Linked DNA regions of Homo sapiens. The protein of the gene in region 2 interacts with the protein of the main gene of each other region in a pairwise test. Each region holds a gene or a part of one and is shown on either strand. Other genes may lie near its edges. The genes, in order: MAGEC1, MRPL19 and TRIM55.

Region 1 (8,852 bases), on a different chromosome or scaffold from region 2:
GGTTATGAAGCTGGTTGGTGGCAGGGCCCAGACCCTCAGAAGGTGATAGAAAAACCTGGAATGGAAAACTGCTCTGAGCAGTTCCTTCTGGTGTAGGATGAGGAAGAGAGGAGTCTCCACATGGGGAATTAATAGAAGGTGTCTTGCAGCTGTCTAACTGGTGAGCTTGAATACAGTGCAAGAACTAGGTGATTGATACCCAACATCTGCAAGGCTTTCCTGAGACATAGGGCGATAATCCCTTGAAGTGTTGCTCAGAAGCCTCTAGGCTGGCACTTATTTGACTGGCCTGGGAGAACCAGAGCCTACTCCATTGAAAGACATTTAATTAGGTTATTTCAATTGTAATGTGGGCAACTGTAAGCAAGGGCTAGATTTTTACTGGAGGACAAATGAAAATAGTGGTTTGGAAGGATGAGCAAAAGGCAAGGTGTAAAGGAGTTGGTGTTTGACTCAAATTCTAGCATCTTTGAGTTGCATTCTAGCTGAAGATGCCTTGCCTTTTCCAAATTATACAATATACCGTTTCAGAAAAAAATGTACTGGGTTTTATTTATGAAGCCAAAGTTTTGGTTAAGCTGGTATTCCATGACGCATTCACCTACATATTCTCTGAGATGTTATGGATAACAAAACTAAGAGCTGAATATTTCACAAAAGACGGTAACCTTTGGTGTGGTAATCATTGATAACAACTGCCATTTATTAAAATTCCAACATATGCCAGGCACTCTGGCAGGTGTTTTACTCACATTACATACACTCCAGCAATTCTATAAGACAGGGCTTATCAAACTCATTTTGCAGGTGAAGAACCCAAGGCTCATAATGCTTGATAAATTCCCAAGACCACATAGCTAGAATGTGACAAGGTTTTGACTTGAGCCCTGGTCTGAATTCATTTAGGCCCACACTGTCCCCACTCCTCCCAGCCTGAGGAAGGCCTTTGCCTGTTAAGTCACTTCTTTTCACACTTGTTAATGTCTCTGAGGTGAAATAAAGATGAACTGTGTGGCTAAGGTATTAAGTTAGGCCACAAGATGGAAGGTCAAATGGGAATAAAATACACTTCGGGGAACATTATTGGCTTTCTTTACCTAAAGTCCTCTTGTTCTGAGCCCTAGGTTTCTTGAGAGCTGAATGTCCAGGTGCTGACAGATTTGTCCATGCCCAACAATTTTTCCCATTGCAGCTCCCCCCAGCTCCTTTTGATCTCCCCTGTGTGGTCTCTTGTGCAACTCTGGAACCTGGCCTGCTGACTAACTTCTCATTACGGTCTCACCCTCTGAAGTGTGAGGACTGAGGAGTCACATGTGCACCAGAATAGATGTGAGACTAGCCCCTATTTCTCCTGGTGTAGAGTGCCTGGAGGTGGCTGCTGAACTCTCAGCGCAAGAACCTAGAAGCAACTGGCCTTCCCCTGAGATAGACCATTCCTACTGCCTGCAGAAGTTCCCTGACTCATCCATCTCTCCCCCAGGTTCCTCTATGATAATGGCCTTTCGATGTGACTATTCGCTTTGGATAGTGACATTTCCATACCTAGGCTGGGCATCTTCAACACACTCTCAACGTATTACCAAACAGGCTGCAGAGTAAAATCTGATTTGCCAGATAATATATGGGTTTTAGGGATGTAATCCTAAGGTCAGAAATAGCCTATTTGAAATCTTTCTAATATTTGATACTTGTAGTATGATTTTAATGAGATGCATTATTTGAAACAGGGCACTGAAAACAGAGATGAACAGGCTTTTGTAGATGATCAAATGCCAATCTTTCCTTCATAAACTTTGTAGATGAGGAAAGGCTATAGACGTCACTTTGTAAATGATCCACAAGAAGGTGAATTTCTAAAAAACACAAAACAATATCTTGAAGACTGCTTAGGAGGTGACAAGGATACTTTGGGGGACATGCTGGTTTTGATGAGAAATAAACAGTAGTTAAATATCCTTCCACTCTCTCTTGTCTGTGTACCTGCCCCACAAGAAAATCCTGGCTTGCAGTGAGCCACAGGCCCATGTATAGCTGTTCAGGTATGTTCCGTCATATGGAGGGTAGCAGAGGCTCACAGGGTAGATTATTTACCGTACACGAAAAATATGACAGAATTCTCAGCCTAAAGAAATTATACAGGTTATTAAAAAGGACAGTGCCAAGTGCTGTTGAGGGAATAACGTAGACCCTCCCTGCCAAGACTTACAGAATTGTTTTAAAACTGGATGTAATCCTGAATTTGAAACCACCAGTCACCTCGTAGGTGCAAGAAAAAGTTGGAAGATTTCAAGGCTACGAGGACATTCCCAGAAACAATTCCAAGCAATGAAGGCACTTACTGTCATCAATTATAATAGTTGCTTTTCATTGAGCACCGTAATAACATATGGGAGAGATTGCAAGTGCCCATCTCCATCTTGTCTAGCTCGCCTTCCTGGCGGGTTCATTTGTAGTTAGACAGAAGCCAGTGTATCATTCCCATGCTTTCATTTCCGTTCAGCACTTAACATCTGTTGTGACGTGGAGCTATAAGGTGACAGCAGCTTGGATTCCTGGCTGAGGTGAAAGCCAGGACCCGCCGTGGATTAGTTTCTTATACCATAACAGAATACCACAGACGGGGTGACTTAAACAATACAAATGAATTTTCTCCCATTTCTGGAGGCTAAATATCTAAGATCAAGATGTGGGCCAGTTTGATTTCTTCCCTGGCCTCTCCGTGGCTTGCTGATGGCCACTTTCTCACTAAATTCTTACATGGTTTTTCCTTGGTCTGTGTGTCTGTATCTTAATCTGCTCTTTTATGAGGACACCTGTCATACTGAATATGAGCCTAACCTTAAGACCTCATTTTACCTTAATTACCTCTTTAAAGTTTCTATCTTCAAATACAGTCACATTCTGGGATACTGGGTTTTAAGACGGATATATGAATTTTGGGGGAGATTCAAAATTCAGCCCATAATACCCTGCCAACTAAATTCAGAATTTATGTACAAAAAAGTAAACGTGTTGAGTCATGTAAAAATGAAGGATTTTTTTGTTGTTGTTCCAAGAGCTTACTGTTATTTTATCTGCCTCCTGGACTGCTCCTCATCCTTTTCTTAGGCTTATTTCAATACTTTCCTTACAAATAAATACTGCATATATTGTTGTTGCAAAAACTTAAAAAAAGAGGTAGAAATCACAATTCTCCCTTTTGGAAAGTTCCTCCAAAATTCAGCCCCCTATTCAGAAGTTTCCACAATTAACCGTGTGGTGTTTAAATTTAAAAGCTGATTTAGAATTTTGAGAAGATTGATGTGGTTTTTAAAGTAAAATTTATACATATATGAGCTTATGTATGTGTTTATAACTACACATGGGTAATAATATACATATAGGTCTGCCACTTCCCTTTCCACTATTATAGATTCAATTGCACCCCCACTGAAGTCTTATGTTGAAATTAACATGTGGCATTATTTGGAGACGGGATTATCTCAGAGGCAAGGAAGTTAAAATGTGGTTATTAAAGAAGAGCTGGTACTATTCCTATGCAAACATCCTTTGTTTATTAATAAACATACTTTATTCACATTTATTTCCTTGTCACGAAAGTCTATTTTCTGTCCCAAGATACCCTGAGGATACGCCATTACACTTGTTCATCATGTCTCTTTAAATGCCCTTTGGCTGTGCCAGTTCACTGAGACTTCTCTTGATTTTGAAAACATTGACAGTTTGGAGGTGTATGGTCAGGTATTTTGTAAAATAGCCTTTGATTGGGAATTAAGTGATTATTTTTTATGATTTGATGTAGGTTACGTTTTCTCGGAAGATGAACAGAGAAGTGAAGTGCCATTCTTATCATATCATACCGACGGCACATAATACCAACACAATTTGTCACTGATGATGTTACTTTGATCACCATGGTGACCTAGTGTTTGTCAGTTTTCTTCAGGGTAAAGTCACATTACTTTTTTCCCTGTGTCATACTGTCATCTTGGGAAGGATAGGAAGACCCAGGACCAGCCAGTAGTCAGATGAGGCCTCTGAGGGAAAACTGCAGAAACCTCCTGCCCACAAAGAAGAGGATCCACAGAAACCAGCTCCCCACCTGTTGTCATCCCTGGGAGGCCCAGGGGCATGTTGACCCACAGTGCTGTCCCCTGACGTCTTAGCGTGTAGAAAGAGGAGAAGGCTGTGCTTAGGTGAGTCTCACTTCAGATCATGAGAGCGGAAGATCAGGAGGGGGGCCTTCTAGGCATCCCCAGGCTGATACAGAGGATGGACTGGTGAGCTACCCCACCACGGACACAGGAGGATCCCCAAAAACCTGCCCGTTTTCACTGCTAGGAGGCCTTGGGCAGGGCCATTAGGGAGAGACGCTAGCGTGCTCCAGTCCCTCTTGGGGGGTTCATGGAAATGGGAACCTTGATCTGAAAAACAGTCCCTGGAGAGAAGAGGGAGGGAGTGGAGGCCGTATCAGGAATAATAGGTTGAGGAAGACTGAGGGTCCCTCCCATGCCATTTCAGACGGAGGGCAGTGGAGCCCTACCTGGAGTCTGGGAGGCCATACCCCACTGTGGATGGATGTGATTCTACCTCTCTTGCACCTTGCAGGTCTCAAGGATGGGAGGGGCTTATTCGGAGGTGAAAGACTCAGATGCATAGAGGCAGGGAGCCCAGACAATGTCAGGAGTCCAGGAACAGCCTCTCAGGAAGGCAGGAAGGGAACACCCATGACTGGTAGTGCTGCCTGTCCTGTCCCTGTGCCTGCTGCCAGCCATGGAGGAGCCCATCAGGGTCCCCAGATTTACAAATTTCTGACTTCCATTTTGGGAGTCAGCCAGAGGGGAGATTTTCTCTGAGGAGGGCAGCTTCAGTTAAACAGAGGGAGTAGCCCCAGGGCTGGCCACTCAACAAGAAGAGAACTCTGTCGAAGGACAGTGACCTCCGAACACGGGGGAGGCACAGGCTGCACCCTGCCACTCCCTGCTGTCAGCCCTGGAAAAAGGTGGGGTGTGAGTGTCAAGGACTGGGGAGGTGGGAGGGAAGAGGTCAGCAGGGCTTAGGGAGTGAGCAGAAAGGTTTGGAGCACATCCTGGAGGTGGGAAGGAAGGGATGGAAAGGAGGCTGACAAGCGGGCGGCGGGGGGGGGGCGCCTTCCTCCTCTGAGAGGAGGCCCCGCCCCACGCTATCCGGGCTGTCAGCCCTGATCAACCCTGACAGAGTTCCCGGATGTGCTTTGCCGGATGTGCTTTCCCGGCGGCCATCTTGGGAGTCTGAAGGACCTGAGGCATTTTGTGACGAGGATCGTCTCAGGTCAGCGGAGGGAGGAGACTTATAGACCTATCCAGTCTTCAAGGTGAGGGCCCCGAGGGAGAAGTGAGGGACAACCCCACCACAGAGAGAAGCAGCCCTGGCCTGCCCTATCCCTGCGGTGGCACTTGTAGGTGGCGGAAACGAAGATGGTAGCCGAGGGCTGAGGGACGTGTCCTCACGGCAGAAGAAGGGAGGAAATGCCGGCCCTCTAGAGAATAAATAGGAAGGCATTGAGGAGGACCGGGGGAACCCCCACCTCAGAGGACAGATTCCCAGAGATTCCCACCCTGCTCCTCAAATCAGCCCCCATAGAGCTCCCCAGGTGGCTGAGGCTGAGCGGCCACCCTCTCACTGCTGGGTGAGGGGTGTAGGGGAGGGGGAGGAGGAGGCCTTGTTCTGGGGGTCCCATGGCAAGTCAGCATGGGGAGCTGCCTCCAGTTGGCAGAGGGAAGATTCCCAGGCCCTGCTGGGAACAAGAGTGAGGACTGAGGGGTCACATGTGCGTCAGAACAGACGTGAGGCCACAGGGACCGCCCCCGTGGTAGAGTGCTGGGAGGTGGCTGCCACCTCACTACCTCCCACTGCTCTCAGTGATGTGGAGTTTTCCTGAGGTTTTTCCTCAGGCCAGCAGAGTGGTGGGGGCCTGGCCCTGTCTGAGAAAATGTGACAATGCTAATTGAATTCTGAGGGGGTCACGAACCTCAGAATTGTGGGACTCTGGGAGTCTGGCCAGCCCCAGCTGCCGTCTTAGCTGGAGGGGCTCCCTCCCTTCCTCTTGCAGGTGCTCCAGAAAGCAGGAGTTGAAGACCTGGGTGTGAGGGACACATACATCCTAAAAGCACCACAGCAGAGGAGGCCCAGGCAGTGCCAGGAGTCAAGGTGAGTGCACGACCTGACTGTGTACCAAGGGCCCTACCCCCAGAAACAGGGCAGACCTGGCAGCACCCGGCCTGTAGCCACCCACTGTCATTCCTGGTGCCTCAGGCTCTGCCTGCCAGCTGTGCCCCGAGGTGCTTTCTCGCGTCCTTCTACAGGTTCCCAGAAGACAAACCCCCTAGGAAGACAGGCGACCTGTGAGGCCCTAGAGCACCACCTTAAGAGAAGAAGAGCTGTAAGCCGGCCTTTGTCAGAGCCATCATGGGTGAGTTTCTCAGCTGAGGCCACTGGCACTGTCCCTCTCTCCCTCAGTCCTGTGGGATCCCATCATACCTATTCGTGTTCACACGTTTACCTGCTGCTCCTGAACAATATTCATCATGCCTCTCTTTCTAAACCTTCCACGCCCCAGCTTTGAGCAAGGCTTCCAGAAGGCAATTTTCATACTGGAGTTGGTAGATGCAGAGGATCCCCCAGATGAGGAAGAGGAGGAAGCTTCCTCCATTTTCTCTTCCTCTTTCCACTTTTTATTCCCCTCGTCCTCCTCCTGTTTTTCTTTCTCATCCTCATCCTCCTCTCTGCTTCTGCGTTCTCCAGGGGACAAGGATATGCCTACTGCTGGGATGCCGAGTCTTCTCCAGAGTTCCTCTGAGAGTCCTCAGAGTTGTCCTGAGGGGGAGGACTCCCAGTCTCCTCTCCAGATTCCCCAGAGTTCTCCTGAGAGCGACGACACCCTGTATCCTCTCCAGAGTCCTCAGAGTCGTTCTGAGGGGGAGGACTCCTCGGATCCTCTCCAGAGACCTCCTGAGGGGAAGGACTCCCAGTCTCCTCTCCAGATTCCCCAGAGTTCTCCTGAGGGCGACGACACCCAGTCTCCTCTCCAGAATTCTCAGAGTTCTCCTGAGGGGAAGGACTCCCTGTCTCCTCTAGAGATTTCTCAGAGCCCTCCTGAGGGTGAGGATGTCCAGTCTCCTCTGCAGAATCCTGCGAGTTCCTTCTTCTCCTCTGCTTTATTGAGTATTTTCCAGAGTTCCCCTGAGAGTACTCAAAGTCCTTTTGAGGGTTTTCCCCAGTCTGTTCTCCAGATTCCTGTGAGCGCCGCCTCCTCCTCCACTTTAGTGAGTATTTTCCAGAGTTCCCCTGAGAGTACTCAAAGTCCTTTTGAGGGTTTTCCCCAGTCTCCACTCCAGATTCCTGTGAGCCGCTCCTTCTCCTCCACTTTATTGAGTATTTTCCAGAGTTCCCCTGAGAGAACTCAGAGTACTTTTGAGGGTTTTGCCCAGTCTCCTCTCCAGATTCCTGTGAGCCCCTCCTCCTCCTCCACTTTACTGAGTCTTTTCCAGAGTTTCTCTGAGAGAACTCAGAGTACTTTTGAGGGTTTTGCCCAGTCTTCTCTCCAGATTCCTGTGAGCCCCTCCTTCTCCTCCACTTTAGTGAGTCTTTTCCAGAGTTCCCCTGAGAGAACTCAGAGTACTTTTGAGGGTTTTCCCCAGTCTCCTCTCCAGATTCCTGTGAGCTCCTCCTCCTCCTCCACTTTATTGAGTCTTTTCCAGAGTTCCCCTGAGAGAACTCACAGTACTTTTGAGGGTTTTCCCCAGTCTCTTCTCCAGATTCCTATGACCTCCTCCTTCTCCTCTACTTTATTGAGTATTTTCCAGAGTTCTCCTGAGAGTGCTCAAAGTACTTTTGAGGGTTTTCCCCAGTCTCCTCTCCAGATTCCTGGGAGCCCCTCCTTCTCCTCCACTTTACTGAGTCTTTTCCAGAGTTCCCCTGAGAGAACTCACAGTACTTTTGAGGGTTTTCCCCAGTCTCCTCTCCAGATTCCTATGACCTCCTCCTTCTCCTCTACTTTATTGAGTATTTTACAGAGTTCTCCTGAGAGTGCTCAAAGTGCTTTTGAGGGTTTTCCCCAGTCTCCTCTCCAGATTCCTGTGAGCTCCTCTTTCTCCTACACTTTATTGAGTCTTTTCCAGAGTTCCCCTGAGAGAACTCACAGTACTTTTGAGGGTTTTCCCCAGTCTCCTCTCCAGATTCCTGTGAGCTCCTCCTCCTCCTCCTCCACTTTATTGAGTCTTTTCCAGAGTTCCCCTGAGTGTACTCAAAGTACTTTTGAGGGTTTTCCCCAGTCTCCTCTCCAGATTCCTCAGAGTCCTCCTGAAGGGGAGAATACCCATTCTCCTCTCCAGATTGTTCCAAGTCTTCCTGAGTGGGAGGACTCCCTGTCTCCTCACTACTTTCCTCAGAGCCCTCCTCAGGGGGAGGACTCCCTATCTCCTCACTACTTTCCTCAGAGCCCTCCTCAGGGGGAGGACTCCCTGTCTCCTCACTACTTTCCTCAGAGCCCTCAGGGGGAGGACTCCCTGTCTCCTCACTACTTTCCTCAGAGCCCTCCTCAGGGGGAGGACTCCATGTCTCCTCTCTACTTTCCTCAGAGTCCTCTTCAGGGGGAGGAATTCCAGTCTTCTCTCCAGAGCCCTGTGAGCATCTGCTCCTCCTCCACTCCATCCAGTCTTCCCCAGAGTTTCCCTGAGAGTTCTCAGAGTCCTCCTGAGGGGCCTGTCCAGTCTCCTCTCCATAGTCCTCAGAGCCCTCCTGAGGGGATGCACTCCCAATCTCCTCTCCAGAGTCCTGAGAGTGCTCCTGAGGGGGAGGATTCCCTGTCTCCT
Region 2 (7,401 bases):
TAAGAAGGAAACAGATATTTTAAATACTCACAACATGTGATTCATTTTCTGATAAAATATTTGTCTAATAAAACAGAGGCAAGATAATTTAATCAAAAGAAATTAAGAAAATTTTCCAAAAATGTTAGTTTACTAGTAATTTTTCTAAGTCTACTTATTAAATAACTTAAGGGAAACTGTAAATATATTTTGCAAATTGTTGTTCAAAAGATAATTGGAAAAAATTGAATATATTGTAGGATTTGAATATACAGCCTACTTTTATGTCACCTCTACCTTCAAAACTACATATAATTTATTTTAGGAGTTGGATTTGTTATGTCTGTTGCAGTGAGGACTTGTGATTCACTGGTATGAAGAATTTTTTGATGTTTATATTAGTAACAAAATTATACAAGGATAGAATCTCATCTAGAAAATGCAAACTATTGTTGAAAAGCAGTTAGCATTTCCACACAACCGCTGTCCCCAGAGATAACTGCTGTTTTCATTTTAATGTTATCCTTTTAGACCTTTTCTCTATTTACAAAAATGTTACGTGTTTCTATGTGTACATAGTTTTGGGTTTTTTTTTTTTTTTTACGTAAGTGGCAGACACTTTATTGCACATGAAATTTGTAATTTTTTTCTATTTAAGTACACATTTGGAAATTATCCTCTGACTTTTGGATTTTTAACTAAATATGTTGGACGTGTTCCTTTATATATTTAAGTTCAGCACAGAAACTTTCCTACCTTTTTGTGGAAGATAAAATATTAAAACTGCTTTCAAAACTACAAATTGACTTAAACTGCTATAGTAATTTTCAATTAAATTTCATTATACCTGGAGTTTGAACGTTAAGGTTTTTATCATATACTGTAATTCAAAAATTTACCTAAATCTCAATGTAAAATTCTTTTTTTTCTTATTACTATGAAATGGATGGAATAAGGAGGGGGAACACAACTAGCAAGAACAAAACATTGGGTTGGCAATTGATATCACATCTTAATTCTTTCCCTGAATTTCTTTCAGCTTTTTGTTCACATAAAGAATGTGAAATTTTTACAGAATCAGACAGATGACTTTAAAGAAATTTTTTTCATGATGGAAAAATCACCTCAATTGATTTTTCCATTTCTTAGGTCCTTGAATAAATGATACTTAGGTATACCTCAGAAATGCCATATATGATACAAATCCTGCAAAAGACATCATGAGAAAATACCAGCAGTATCTATCATGAATGTAGAAATAAAAGTCCTTAAAATAATTAGCAAATCAAATCCAGCAATGTATAAAAAAGATAATAGGGTTTATTCCTGGAAAGTAAGGTTGTTTTAACATTAGTCAACCAGTGTAATCACTCACGAACAGAATAAAGGAGAAAATCCACATCTCGATGACTGCAGAACCAATCATCTCAATTATTACCGAAAAAGTGTTTGACAAAATTCAGCACCCCCTCATACTACAAAAACCTTTCGGCAAAGTAGGAATATAAATTCCTCAATCTGATAAAAGGCATCTGTGAGAAAAATCTATACCTAACATCATATATAATGGTGAAATATTAAAGCAAGGATGTCTGCTCTCACCATTTCTGTTCAACATTGTTCTAGAAGACATAGTCATACAATCAGTCAAGATAAAAGAAGGCATAAACATTGAAACACAAGAGTTAAGATAGTCATTAGTTGGCCAGACATCCCAACACTTTGTGAGACTGAGCTGGGAGGATCGTTTGAGGCCAGGAGTTCAAGATCAGCCTTGGCAACAAGCTTGTTGTAAACATTAAGAGAAATGAAATGTCTTGTACAGCATCGGCACATAGGAGCCTTCTAATGAGGAGCCTATCCCTGAAAAAGTGAAAGATATATCATTTTTCTAATCCTTCGAATAGGATAAACTAAGTTTTTGATCTCTCTGAGTTATTCAAAAGGCTCAGGGATTTATTTCCCATCACAACACTACAAGGTAGTTTAGAAAATATACATACTTGAGCAACATGGTGGAGTAGGCACATTGAAAAACAAGCAGGGGCTGGGTGTGGTGGTTCACGCGTGTAATTGCAGCACTTTGGGAAGCTGAAATGAGAGGATGGCTTGAGGCCAGAAGTTCAAGACCAGCCTGGTCAGTATAGTGAGACCCCAATCCCTAAAAAATATATATATATTTTTTAAAGCAGGAACAGGCATAGCCAATTTTATCAGAACTCTGAAAAACAGTAAAAAGTTTATAGCAATGAAGCAAATGCTGAGTCAAGAACAGGCAACTTTAAAATGGCAAGAAAGCTTTGTGACATTTCTGCTTGCCCTTCCCCCACAAGCTCCCTGGTGTTGCAGCAGTCTTGAAATCAGCAACTGCATTCTGTCTTGGACCCTGATCCCCATTTCTAGAGGAAGCTGAGCAGAACTTACAAATTCTTGTTTAAGTCTCTGGTAGCCTGTCTGGGGCTACTTAAAGGATTGACAGAGCACTCATCGTAAGCAGTAGGCAATGCTTGAAAAAAGTGTAAGGTGAACTAACAACCGCAAACACCTGGGTCGAAAGACTATGGTCAAGATATCCAAAAAACCATCTATGTTCTGTGAGAAAAAGCTGCAAAGGAGTTTCTTTGGGAAATTAGAATATTCAACAGCACATACAGGGAGATTTAGAAAACTACGTGCATACACAGCAAGAAGCATGCTCAGACAAGATCTGCAAAGACCCTACGCTTTTGGGCCTGATTGTTAGGCTCAGTACAAGCCTGGCTAAGTATTAATGGAAAAGCCCAGCACAGAACCAATCTACAAAGACTGGAAAGACTGGGAGAGAGATTTTTCTGCTAGTTTTAACTCCTTTCAAGGAAATCTATGTCAAACTATTAAACACAAACTAAGGAACAGAGACTTCAGTGATGACACACAGAAGGAATACAGTCTTTGCAAAAATAGTTTGGAAATGACTGCACATGTAGCAATAGACTGCTACAATCTTCAATAATAAAAATAAAACTAACTCTCAGGAAGGGGGGAATATCTGATTTTCAGGGCCACCACGTTATGATGTTCAAACATACAGTTTTCAACAACAAAAAGACAGCATACAAAGACACAGGAAAGTATGGCTCATTGAAAACAAAATAATGAAAACCATCCCTGAAGAAACACAGACATTGGACTTACTATGCAAAGACTTTAAACAATTGTCTTAAATAAGCCCAAAGAGCTAAAGGAAAACATGGACAAAGAACTAAAGGAAGAAAGAGACATATGAACAAAATGAGAATATCAATAAAGACACAGACGTTATAAAAAGGAACCAAAGATAAATCTTGGAGCTGAAAAGTACAGTAACTGAAATAAATTCACTAGAGGAGTTCAACAGTTGATCTGAACAGGGAGAAGAATCAACAAACTTGAAAAAAATAAAAAGAAGGGCAACTGCAATAATCAAGTCTGAGGAACAAAAGAGAACACAGCCTAAGAAACTGGTGAGACAGCATCAAACAGACCAACATATACATTAAGAATATTTCAGAAGGAAAAGAAAGAAGCAGTGAAAAAAATTGAAGAAATAATAGCCAAATATGTCCAAAATTTGATAAAAGACATAAATCTATGACTCCAAGAAACTCAACAAACTCTAAGTGGGATAAACTCAGAGACCCACACTGAGCCGCGTTATAATCAAACTGTCAAAAGACAAAAGCTGAGCAAATCCGAAAAGCAATAAGACAGAACTGACTCATCAAGAATGAGGAATCCTCAAATTTTATAACATCTAATATCTCATGAGAAACCATGAAGTCAGAAGGTAGTGGGATGACATATTTAAAGTGCTGAAAGAAAAATACTGTTACCAAAAATTCATGTATCTGGCAAAATTATCCATCAAAAATAAGGGAGAAATCAAGACATTCTCAGATAAAACAAAAGCTGAGGGAGTTTATTACAATTAGACTTGCCCTGCAAGAAATGCATAAGGGAATCCTTTGGGCCGAAATGGAAGGGCACTAGACAGTAACTCAAATCTATATAATGAAATAAGGATCCAAAATAAGATAAATATATTGACAAATATAAAAGTCAGTATTACTATCATACTGTTTTCTAACTCCACTTTTTATTTCCTAAATGATTTAAAAGACAAACTCATACAAATAACTATAAATTATTTATTAGGCAATTTGTGCCATCAATAACATAAGGGGGGCAGGGGCAGAGCTTTACAGGAGTAGAGATTTTGTATGCTATTGAAGGTAAATTGGTATCAGTTTAAATTAGATTGTTTTAAGTGTAGGATGTTAACTATAATCCCCATAGCAACCACAAATAAAACATCTAACAAATATACACAAAGGGGAGTGGAAAGAGAATCAGACTAGTTCACTACAAAAAAACAGAAAAGAAGGCCATAAAGAGGAAATGAGGGGCCAAAAAAGTATATGACATATAGAAGAAGTGTTAAATGGTAGAAGAAAGTCCTTCCTTAATTACTTTAAATGCAAATGGATTAAATTTTCCAATCAAAAGGCAGAAATTGGCAGAATGGACAGAAAAAACAAAACAAAACAAGATAGTGATATGCTGTCTACAAGAGACTATAGCTCCAAAGACACAAATACATGGAACACATAGAAAAAGATACTCTGTGCAAAAATTTTTTTAAAAAAAGAGAACCTTAACACATTGTAAACCACCTTGACCTAAGAGACATATAGAAAACTACAGTCAACAATAGCATGATAAATATTTTGCTCAAGTGTATGAGGAACATTCTCCAGGACAGACCATCTATCAGGCCACACACCAATTCTCAAAAACATTAAAATCATACTAAGTATCTTCTCTAATCACAATGGAATGAACTTGGAAATCAATAACAAAAAAACAGTGGGAAATTCATAAACATGTAGAAATTAACACACTCAACCAGGGGATCGAAGAAGAAATCACAAGAGAAATAAAACATGACATTATCTAGCAATTCTACTCAAGATGTATACCCAAAAGAACTTAGAAACAGGCAATCAAATACATACTTGTTATGTCAATGTTTACTGCAGCATTATTCACAATAGCCAAAAGGTAGACATATCCCAGTGTTCATCAGAAGATGGATGAACAAAATGTATATACATACAATGGAATATTATTTAGTCATAAAAACAAATGAAATTCTGACACATGCCACAACATGGATGAATCTTAAGGACTGCTTGAGGCCAGGAACTCAAGACCAGCATGGGAAACATAGCAAGACCACATCTCTACAAAAAACAAAATCAGCCAGGCGCAGTTAATGTGTGCCTATAGTCTTAGCTACTCAAGGAGGATTGCTTGAGCCCAGGATTTTGAGGCTGCAATGAGCTATGATCACACCACTGCACTCCTACCTGAGTGATAGAATGAGACCTTGTCTCAAAGATAAAAAGAAAGATTTGAGGTTACCTGGGGTTGGGAGAGATACAGGAATGAGGTTATTGCTCAACAGTTACAGAGTTTCAGTTTGGGGTGATGAGAAAATTTTGGAAATAGTAGTAATAATTTCACAACATTGTGATGTAATTAATGCCTCTGACTTGTAAATTTAAAATGTTTACAATGGCAAATTATGTTTTATATATATATCCTACCACAATAAAAAAAAAAAGCTTTAGATTATGCACATTTAATTTTATTTCTGGGGGAAGATTTGCTTTACTTCTGGGGAAAAATTCACAAGAATTTTAAAGATATTCCTACAGAGTAAAAAGCATGATTGTTTACATGTTTTTGAGCACCTGTACTTACAAGCTGATCATACATTTGCAGAGCTTTAGGTCCTAAAATATACTGTCCCATCTACCATTCTACCAAGATTGAAGTGTGTTTATCAAGACAGAAAAAGAACAGGTTTTAATAGCTATCTTCTAACAAGATAAAGAGAAGAAAAATATAAGATATAGGCTCTTGTTAACCTTTTATTTTGAGAGGTTCTTTTGAGAGGTTATCTCAGCAAATAATCTAAACAAGTGAAGGATAGGATATCTATTACTTGTTGACAGTAGTTAGATGACTATATAATCATTAGTGAAAAAGATCAAGGAAGTAGCTGAAAGCTGCTGTCTGACAGACCCCTAGACAATCTCCTTCCTGGACAGACCCCTCCAGGAAGGAGATTGGAAGCCTCTATTCTAGGGAATCTGACAAAACCAAAATATTCATGTGGAGGAGGGGACTCCCAAAAAAGCCCATTCAGATAATCCTAAAGACAGCCCCTTCCCACAACCCAAAGGCTTTCCAAGCTTTTTAGTCCCTCTTTCAACCATAAGAAGACAGCCAAAGATTATCAGATATCCTGGAAAAGTCTGAAATATAGACAACAAAAAATAAATACAGAAAGAAATTTGGAGGAAATAGATGCGCAAACAATTTTAAATGAAAAAAAAATACACTATATTGAATACCCCTTATCTGTGAACAAATCCATAGATAAAGGCTTTTTGGTTGTAAGAAAAGGAACTTCTACAAATCAAGAAGGGGTCTTAAGATTTTAAAATACAATAGCAAAGAGTTGGAAGATTGAGCTAAAGAGCTAAAAAACAGAGACTGGGGTCAAGGGAGGGAGGTAAGAAAATAGATACCCAGTGCTGGATATCCAACATCCAAATAATAGTTGGGAGAACAAAGCAGCAGAGAATAAATCATCAACCAATGCTAAGTGTTTCCCAGAACTGACAGAAATGAGTTACTATCTGGAAGGGTTCACCTAAAACCCAATACAATGGATAAATATAGACCCACACCAAGACACATCATCATGAAATTTATGATGGGGAAATCAAAATGGCATTGGATTTCTCAATACAACAATAGAAACAAAGAAAATGGAGCAACAATATTTTTAAAGTCCTGAAGGAAAATTACCTCCTACCTAAACGTATAAAGTATCAATCAAACATGAGACATGCAAGGTCTCAAAAATTTTACCTCCACACAAACTTCCTCTAGAAGCTACCAAAGGATGTGCTGCAGCAAAACAAGTTAGTACTCAATAAAATGGAAAACATGGAATCCAGAAAACAGCTGAGCGCAGGAAAGAAGTTAGTCCCAAGACAGCTAGGAACCAGAGGGCAGATCTGAAGGTAACTCAATGGATAGGCTGAGAGTTGCCTTCAAGATTTAGGATAGTACTGTATTTTTTAACCTGAGGAACAGTATATCCAGGTGAGTATGGACCAAATTACATGTTTTTCTTTAGCATGTGTGCTTATACCCCAGCTTTCCAATCCATGCTGCATGGATCAGCAACAACACTCATATCATACCAAAGGTATTGTTTTAACCTAATCCTAAGATACAGAGTTTGATTCATCATGCTGTGAGCATCAAAAAACAGTTTACTTCCTCTAACCACATTTCTGCAACATCCAGCTACCCAGTATAATC
Region 3 (7,775 bases), on a different chromosome or scaffold from region 2:
GCTTCGAATCTTCCCGCCTTTGCTTCGAGCTGTCCCACATTTCCAGACCAAGCCAATGTTCATCTTGCATGTGTTGATTGATGTCTCATGTCTCCCTAGAATGTATAAAAACAAGCTGTGCTCTGATCACCTTGGGCACACGTCGTTAGAACCTCCTGAGGCCGTGTCACAGGCATGCATCCTCAACCTTGGCAAAATTAACTTTCTAAATTAACTGAGACCTGTCTCAGATTTTCGGGGTTCACAAGGTAAACCAAAAATATGATTCTAAGCCCCCCAACTCACTGATGGATGCCCCTTCTCGGCCAAGGTCATTCCAAAGTAAACCTAAAAAACTAGTTCAGGCCATTATGGGAAGATCACACATGACTCCTTCTAGCCTCTTCCTTTTAGAATTCAGGCTTAGCTGATCAGTATTAACACTAAAACAGAGATCTTAAGACTGAACAAACAGACTCTTTGTAGCAATAAGATACCAAATTCCAATCTGACTCTAGTATAGCATCGTATGACAGATAGCAGGCCCTGAAAGAAATTGAAGTATTTTACCCCAAAATATATTTCTTTGAAATATTTTGAAATGGCCCTGCAACACTGTCTCTTCTGAGGAAAATCTACATTCTATAGAGAATCCCTTCCTTTTGCAGGTCTTTTCCCTGATCCAGGAGAGATTTAACTAAGATTTAACTTCTATTCTCTCTGAAGCCTGCTACCCGGAAGCTTCTTCTGCACAAGGGCATTGGTCTTCACAACCCCTTATCTAAACCCAGACATATCTTACTATAAATTCCAGGTCCTTAGATAATATCTTAACTCTTTTAACCAACTGCCAATCAGAAAATCTTCAAATCTACCTATGACCTGGAAGCCCCCACTTTGAGCTGTCCCATCTTTCAGACCAAATTAATGTATATCCCCACATATATTGATTGATGTCTTATGTCTCCCTGAAACTTATAAAACTACACTGTAGCCTGACCACCTTGGGCACCTGTTCTCGGGACCTCCTGGGGCTGTCACAGGTCATGGTCCCCATATTTGGCTCAGAGTAAATCTTTTCAAATATTTTACAGAGTTTTACTCTTTTTCATTGACATTCATCAACTGGGCTCTTACTCCTGTGGGATTCATGCTGTTTTCCTGTGTAGCCTCCAGGGACAGTTCTAAGAAAAAGTAAAAGGCAGGGAGCAAGAAAGAACAGAGAGAAAAAAAAAGAGAGAGAAAGGAAGATAGAGATCAGCTCTGTAATCCCAGAGTTTTGGGAGGCCAAGGCAGGAGGATGGCTTGAAATCAGGAGTTCAAGACCAGCCTGGGCAACATAGCAAGACCCTTGTCTCTGCAAAAAATTTAAAAAATTAGCTGGGCATAGTGGTACACGCCTGTAGTACCAGCTACTCAGGAGGCTGAGGTGGGGGGATTGCTTGAGCCCAGGAATTTGAGGTTTCAGTGAGCTATGATTGCGCCACTGCACTCCAGTTTGGGCAACAGAGTGACCCTCTGTCTCTTAAAAGAAAATTCTGTTTCAGAGGTTTTTGTTTTTTTCTACAAATACTGCTAAATTAGGTTATGAACCCCACTCACTTATAGAGGGCAGAACTGAAATCCTCCTAGGTGAAGTCACTTTCCAAGACCACAAAGGGAGGTAGATGCAGAAGCTGGGAGAAAGCCTGACTGTCTCTGACTCACTCTGCAGCCTCTCACTACATCGTCGGTTACTCAGGCTCAGGCATCTGAGTCATCTGTGTGGATTCTACTTTCATAGCAGCCCCAGGGATCATTTCCTCCTTTCCTTCCCCACTGCCATGACCTGTGCCAGGGCTTCGCGACCTCTCACCTGGACTATTGGCAACAGCCTCTGATCTGGTTTTTAGCCAGCCACCTTCATGCTAATCTAACCCAATCATCGCTGAAAGATCAATCTAACCAACCACTGCTCTCACGGAAGTGTCCAGTGAGAAACTTTTAACGACTTCCTGCTGCTTAACTTATTAAGTGTTAAAAACTCTTTAGCACAGTATCCATGGCCAGCCAATGCTTGAGCGCGTGCCTGCACTCCAGCTCAAGCCACCGTGGCTCTGAGATCCCCTGCATGCCTGTGCATGCCCATGTTGCTGCTTCTGTGCCTTCTCTTGGAAAGCCCCAGCCATGCCCCACCTAACTACACGTCCATCCCTCTGAGATCCTCGGTGCAGCAGTTCAAACACTACCCCCACCCATGAAGCCCTTCTGATTCCTCTGACCCTGAAATGCTGTAGCTGTTGTGAAAGGAAAATAAATATTGGTATCCCAAAATCATTAAGCCAAAGGGAAAAGTCAAGCTGGGAACTGCGTCAGGCAAACCTGCCTCCCACGTTATTCCTAAATAAGATAGCTACAAAGATTTAAACGCTACATACCTCCCTTACAATTTGCACACTGGGAAATTCCTTATAGGCCCCAATATCTTTACCCTAAAACAGTTTTGTTGAATTTTACCCTGACAGTGTAAATTGACAGCTTATCTTCACAGGCATGGTACGAAGGACAGAACTCTAAGTCATCTCTCTGCTCACCTGAGACAAATGCATATCTGCTTTCTTCCTCTAATGTAAAAATGCAGACTCACTGAGCTAAAGGAAGACATAAATGACTATTATTCCTCTACCCACCGCCCAGCCCCAACATGTAAATTATGTATTTGGTGAAAGGCTGATCAAAGACTCAGAAGAATGCAACTGTTTGCCTCTTATCTACCCACAACTGAAATTTTTTTTCTCTTTCCCCAATATCCATTCTTTTCCCTTTAAATATTAAAGCCTTCGAAATCTTCTTTGGAGAAAGATGCAGGCCTGCCTCCTGGCACGCGCCCTTAACCTTGACAAAACAAACTTTCTCGATTGAGACCTGTCTCAGGTACTTTTTGGCTTGTACTCTTTATCACATTTTATTTTGTACTATGTTCTGTGTGTGCATGTCTCATCTCCACTCTTATACTGAGCTCCTTGAGGCCAATGACCTATGTCTTGTTCATCTTTCAATACCCAGAGCCTCACACAATGGAGACACACTACACATATCCAATGAATGTATTTTGAAGGAATGAATTCCTTCTAAAAGAAAAGACTCTGCTGCAATGTGCATGATTAGTCTAAGTGCTTTTACTTAGATAGCAAGGTCTTTTGCAGTAGAAACTTAATCTTTCCTAGAAAATATCCCACATATTGTACTCAGACCTCCCCTCCATAGCCCATGAATTGATAAACACAATTAACTGCCTAGGCTGGGTGAACCAAAGTAACTCAGTAAAAAAACTTTACCAGTTCCCGTCCTCCCTGTAGTTGCTAAATAAATATTGAAAGGACTAAGATAATTCTCTAAAGATCCCTGATATGCTTATGAATATATATAACTTATTATTAGTTAATAGAGCTTACTAGATTCTCAATAAGCTCTCCGTGCACACAGCACTAAGACCACACATAACTGACCTACACTTCACTGGTAATTTAATTCACACCAGGGATATGTTAACAAAATGTGTTTATTGCCCAAGGTTTTTAAAATGAAGGAGAAAGAAAGCCGAAATTTATCACATATAAACAGACTTGGATTTCTTTTTTATTTTTGATCTGATTTAAACATTTTTAAATACAATATGTATTGGTTAAACTGTTGCTTCACAAAATCCTGATGAATGTCAGAATCGATGTTTATGACTCAAGAGCAGACCAAGAATATCAGAAATGACCAGAGAAACTATGGTTTAACAAGTCACCTTGGAGGAAGGGGAAATGCAAGGGAGAATAGGTATTTTGGAGGCAGATGAAATGCAGATATGGAAGTAGGACTCCATTTATACTTCAGTTGTCAATGGCACTGGTAACTGTCCCCCAAGGGATGACAAAATAAAATAATAGATCTGCCACCTCCAGGTGCCTGCCAGTTACTACCTCATTACAGATTATTGTTGCAAACTATTATATAATTTAAGAATTTAAATAATCAGTAAAAGACTATCAAATTTTCTTTGTGTTTTTGGGTGTATGTAGGAGGTGGGGCAGTATAGGATGAAAGAGGGCCAAGGAAGAGGAAAGCAATGTGGAAGAGCAAACAGCATACTAGAGTTGTTTTATAATGTAACTTTTTTCTCAAATAATTAGATCATCCACTGGTTTTGAATTTTTATTTATGCATGTATTTATTTATTTATTAGGTGGATACCTTTATGGTGAAGGGATTTGAATTTAGCTTTTAAATTGGAATTTTTCAAAGACCACAACCCCAGCTGACAAAGATGAAATACTTAACATTAAGAAAGTCTTTTTGATGATTGCCTTTGTGAAGCCAGGATAACAATTTTCGAGACATGTTTTGTTCATTTTCACCTAAGAAGGTGCTATTAGGCTACTTTCCGTGACTCAATTCCTACACTCTCAAGACAGGGCTGGCATTAGTTACACAGACTCTGTGCTGCGTTCTGCCCCTTCCTGGAGAAGCCATCGCCAAGTTCTCAGTGAGTGCTCACAGAGGGCATGGTTCAGTGGCTAGGCATGCACATTTGCATTTGTTGTTGACAACTGTCAGCTTCGACCTCCTTCTCCTCACAACCCCGTCTAAATGGGGTTTGTAATCCTCCTTCCCACCCACTCTCTTCACTCCCTGGGGCAAGAATGTTGACTCCTGCTCTCCGTCACCTGTCAGGATCCATCCTCCTGTCACTGGCTTATATGGACACGTCAGCCCACCGTCACGTGACCGCAGGCTGCTAAAAACAGCTCCAGCACCCACTCCAAACCAGGGCCTGAAACAATGTCCTCCACCGAGAGAAACGTAAAGGACACTTGATCACACAATCCCTGGAATAATATCCAGGAAACACTTGCTGGAGCCACTCGCAGCACCCTTCCCTGGCAGCACACTTGGGGACAGCGAGGAGATGAGCGCATCTCTGAATTACAAATCTTTTTCCAAAGAGCAGCAGACCATGGATAACTTAGAGAAGCAACTCATCTGTCCCATCTGCTTAGAGATGTTCACGAAACCTGTGGTGATTCTCCCTTGTCAGCACAACCTGTGTAGGAAATGTGCCAGTGATATTTTCCAGGTAGGTTTGTTTGGAATTTGGTTGAGGGGAGGGGGTGGAAAAGATTCCCTCCTCTTGGAATCAAGTGCTTAACATTGAGGTGAAATCCTTTAAAAAACTTTATAAGGTTGCCGGGCGCTTTGGCTCACGCCTGTAGTCCCAGCACTTTGGGAGGCTGAGGCCAGTGGATCACCTGAGGTCAGGCCTTCGAGACCAGGCTGGCCAACATGGCAAAACCCCATCTCCACTAAAAATACAAAAAAAAAAAAATTAGCTGGGCATGGTGGCGGGCACCTATAATCTCAGGTACTTGGGAGGCTGAGGCAGGAGAATTGCTTGAACCCAGGAGGCGGACATTGCAGCGAGCGGAGATCGTGCCATTGCCCTCCGGCCTGGGCAACAGAGCAAGACTCTGTCTCAAAAAAAGAAAAACAAACAAACAAAAAAACTTTATAAAGTTGCATTTACTTTCAAGAAAAACACGTTTCTTTTAATGATTTGGTTTGTGTCCTCTTTACTCCCAAATCTAGTTTTATTTTAATACTAAGAATCATATTTTTTTTTAAGTCAAACCATTTAATGTGTTTCAAAACTATAAATGAGTAACTGCTGAAGACATGAGTGTGGAGTTTCTGGCTGGAACTTTTGGTTCTGAAAGTGGTGGACGGAAAAGCACCTTACGTGGACAATGGTATATTCGCAGATGACTGTGGATAAGGTCTGACCCTGTGTTTCAGGACCACTTGCTGAGAAAGCCCTGAGGGATGATCTTATGGCAAGCTTAAAGTAGAAGTTCATGTTGTTTGTAGTAGCAGAGAGTGAAAATAAGTCTCAGAGAAGCTGCTTGTGGCATTACCCAATTCCTTTTTTCTTACTTGGCAAGAACAGGCCTCTAACCCGTATTTGCCCACAAGAGGAGGTACCACCATGGCATCAGGGGGCCGATTCCGCTGCCCATCCTGTAGACATGAAGTGGTTTTGGATAGACATGGGGTATATGGACTTCAGAGGAACCTGCTGGTGGAAAATATCATTGACATCTACAAGCAGGAGTCCACCAGGTAACACTCTTCCACTCTTCCATGTGTCAAGCCCATCTGAAACTTGTTTTTGTTTGTTTGTTTTAATGGGTTGCTACGCTGAATGCTTGTTTATCAATCACAGACTGTTTTATGGAAAAATGGTTTTCCAAGTCAGTCCTTCCCAGTGAGACTGAGAGTTGCTCACAGCAGGAGAGAGGGGAGTTGGTGCCCATGCTTTTGTATCAATTTAAGAATGAAGTGACTCATTAACACCAATCCATTCCAGATGGTGATGCTGAAAGAGACATACTGCTGTCCCCCTCCACCTTAAAGCCTGGTATTACATCCATTTTACACATTTTGCACTTCACAGGCACTTTGTAGCTCCAGATCCCTACAAAGCAAAGAAAAAAAAATCTAGTAAATACTTAATAGAAAATTAATAGAAATGGCATCTTCCGAAGTAGCCCAGTTCCTAGTTCAGACAGTCTTGCCTTAAAATTGTTTGGATGATAATAAAAACAAAATCCTCTAACATAGGTTGTCACTGTATTTACTCTAAGGGAAGTCACAAAGCAAGGCAAAACCCTGGCCTTTAGGGACTTAAACTTCAGAGCCATGAGGAAAAAAAAGGGTGAAATTCAGGTTATGTTTCCCTATTCCTTATACTGTATTTACTGCATAGTCAGCATTCACTTGTTGATTGTGAATAACATCGTGATAGCATTATATATCTATCCATTCATTTTTAAAAAATAACAAAAAAGGCTTCTTATTCACCAAACCACATTGGCTATAGAATTCCTTTCCTAGACACAATGCTGCGGGAAGCTTATTCCTAGAAGGCACGGTGTGAAGAGCCCCTTTTCAATTGTGTGCAGGTCAGTCCAGTCCACAAAGCTTGATAGCAATATTGAGACCATCTAGAAATGGCCTCATTGTGATTCCATTAGGGGACACGTATTTATGGAACATCTGCAGAGCTCTAAGAGGCTTGTGCTCTTGGAAGGAAAGCTGTTCTATAAATCTAACATAATTATTATAATTATTATAGCTATTAATTTCCGCTAAAGATCCAAAACTAAATTAGACAGTACCAGGATCTAGATGGGTTTGGGGAAGAATTGCTGATGACATATTGCAGAGATTGCAGCTGGCTGTTTCCCTTGCTTCCAAAGTCTCTTGACAAGAACAAAAGTACTATTGCTGTTGCTGTTACTTTACAGATTTGATCTCATTGTATTTCACTACTTTAAAATACAAATACACACTTGTCTCTTAAAAACTTAACCAGCCAATTAAAAACCAATTAATTATGAGATTGATGCAAAAGTAATTGCGATTTTTGCAATTACTTTTCATGGCCAAAACAGCAATTACTTTGCCACCAACCTAATATTAAGAGAGTTTATATAACAAGAGTTTCAGTGCTAGTCCAGTGTCTTGCACAGAATAGTTGCTCCATAAATCCCAGCTGATTAAGCAATACCACAAATATTCTTACGTAACAAGTTTCAGAGCTAGTACAGTGCTTTGCACAGAATAGTTGCCCCATAAATCCCAGCTGATTAAGCAACACCACAAATATTCTTTCATGTTCTATTTATTGCAATAAATTTATGTTTTGTTACTTGTCACAGTGGGAACTTGAGACATGAAAAAATAGCAATACTTGTTATGAAATCCAGAGA

What was found.
Region 1: the proteins of MRPL19 (region 2) and MAGEC1 interact in a two-hybrid assay, tested with the Homo sapiens proteins (one study listed by BioGRID and IntAct).
Region 3: the proteins of MRPL19 (region 2) and TRIM55 interact in a two-hybrid assay, tested with the Homo sapiens proteins (one study listed by BioGRID).

The regions. Positions count from the first base shown.
Region 1 is NC_000023.11:141,898,626-141,907,477, forward strand, and holds the start of MAGEC1 (melanoma-associated antigen C1), read left to right. Parts: upstream 1-5,268; 5' UTR 5,269-5,353; intron 5,354-6,091; 5' UTR 6,092-6,189; intron 6,190-6,344; 5' UTR 6,345-6,447; coding exon 6,448-6,451; intron 6,452-6,783; coding exon 6,784-8,852.
Region 2 is NC_000002.12:75,656,085-75,663,485, reverse strand, and holds the end of MRPL19 (large ribosomal subunit protein bL19m), read right to left. Parts: 3' UTR 1,280-7,401; downstream 1-1,279.
Region 3 is NC_000008.11:66,122,354-66,130,128, forward strand, and holds the start of TRIM55 (tripartite motif-containing protein 55), read left to right. Parts: upstream 1-4,775; 5' UTR 4,776-4,915; coding exon 4,916-5,083; intron 5,084-5,945; exon of another isoform or gene 5,946-5,950; coding exon 5,951-6,123; intron 6,124-7,775. UniProt on the Homo sapiens protein: E3 ubiquitin ligase that plays an important role in regulating cardiac development and contractility, muscle growth, metabolism, and fiber-type differentiation.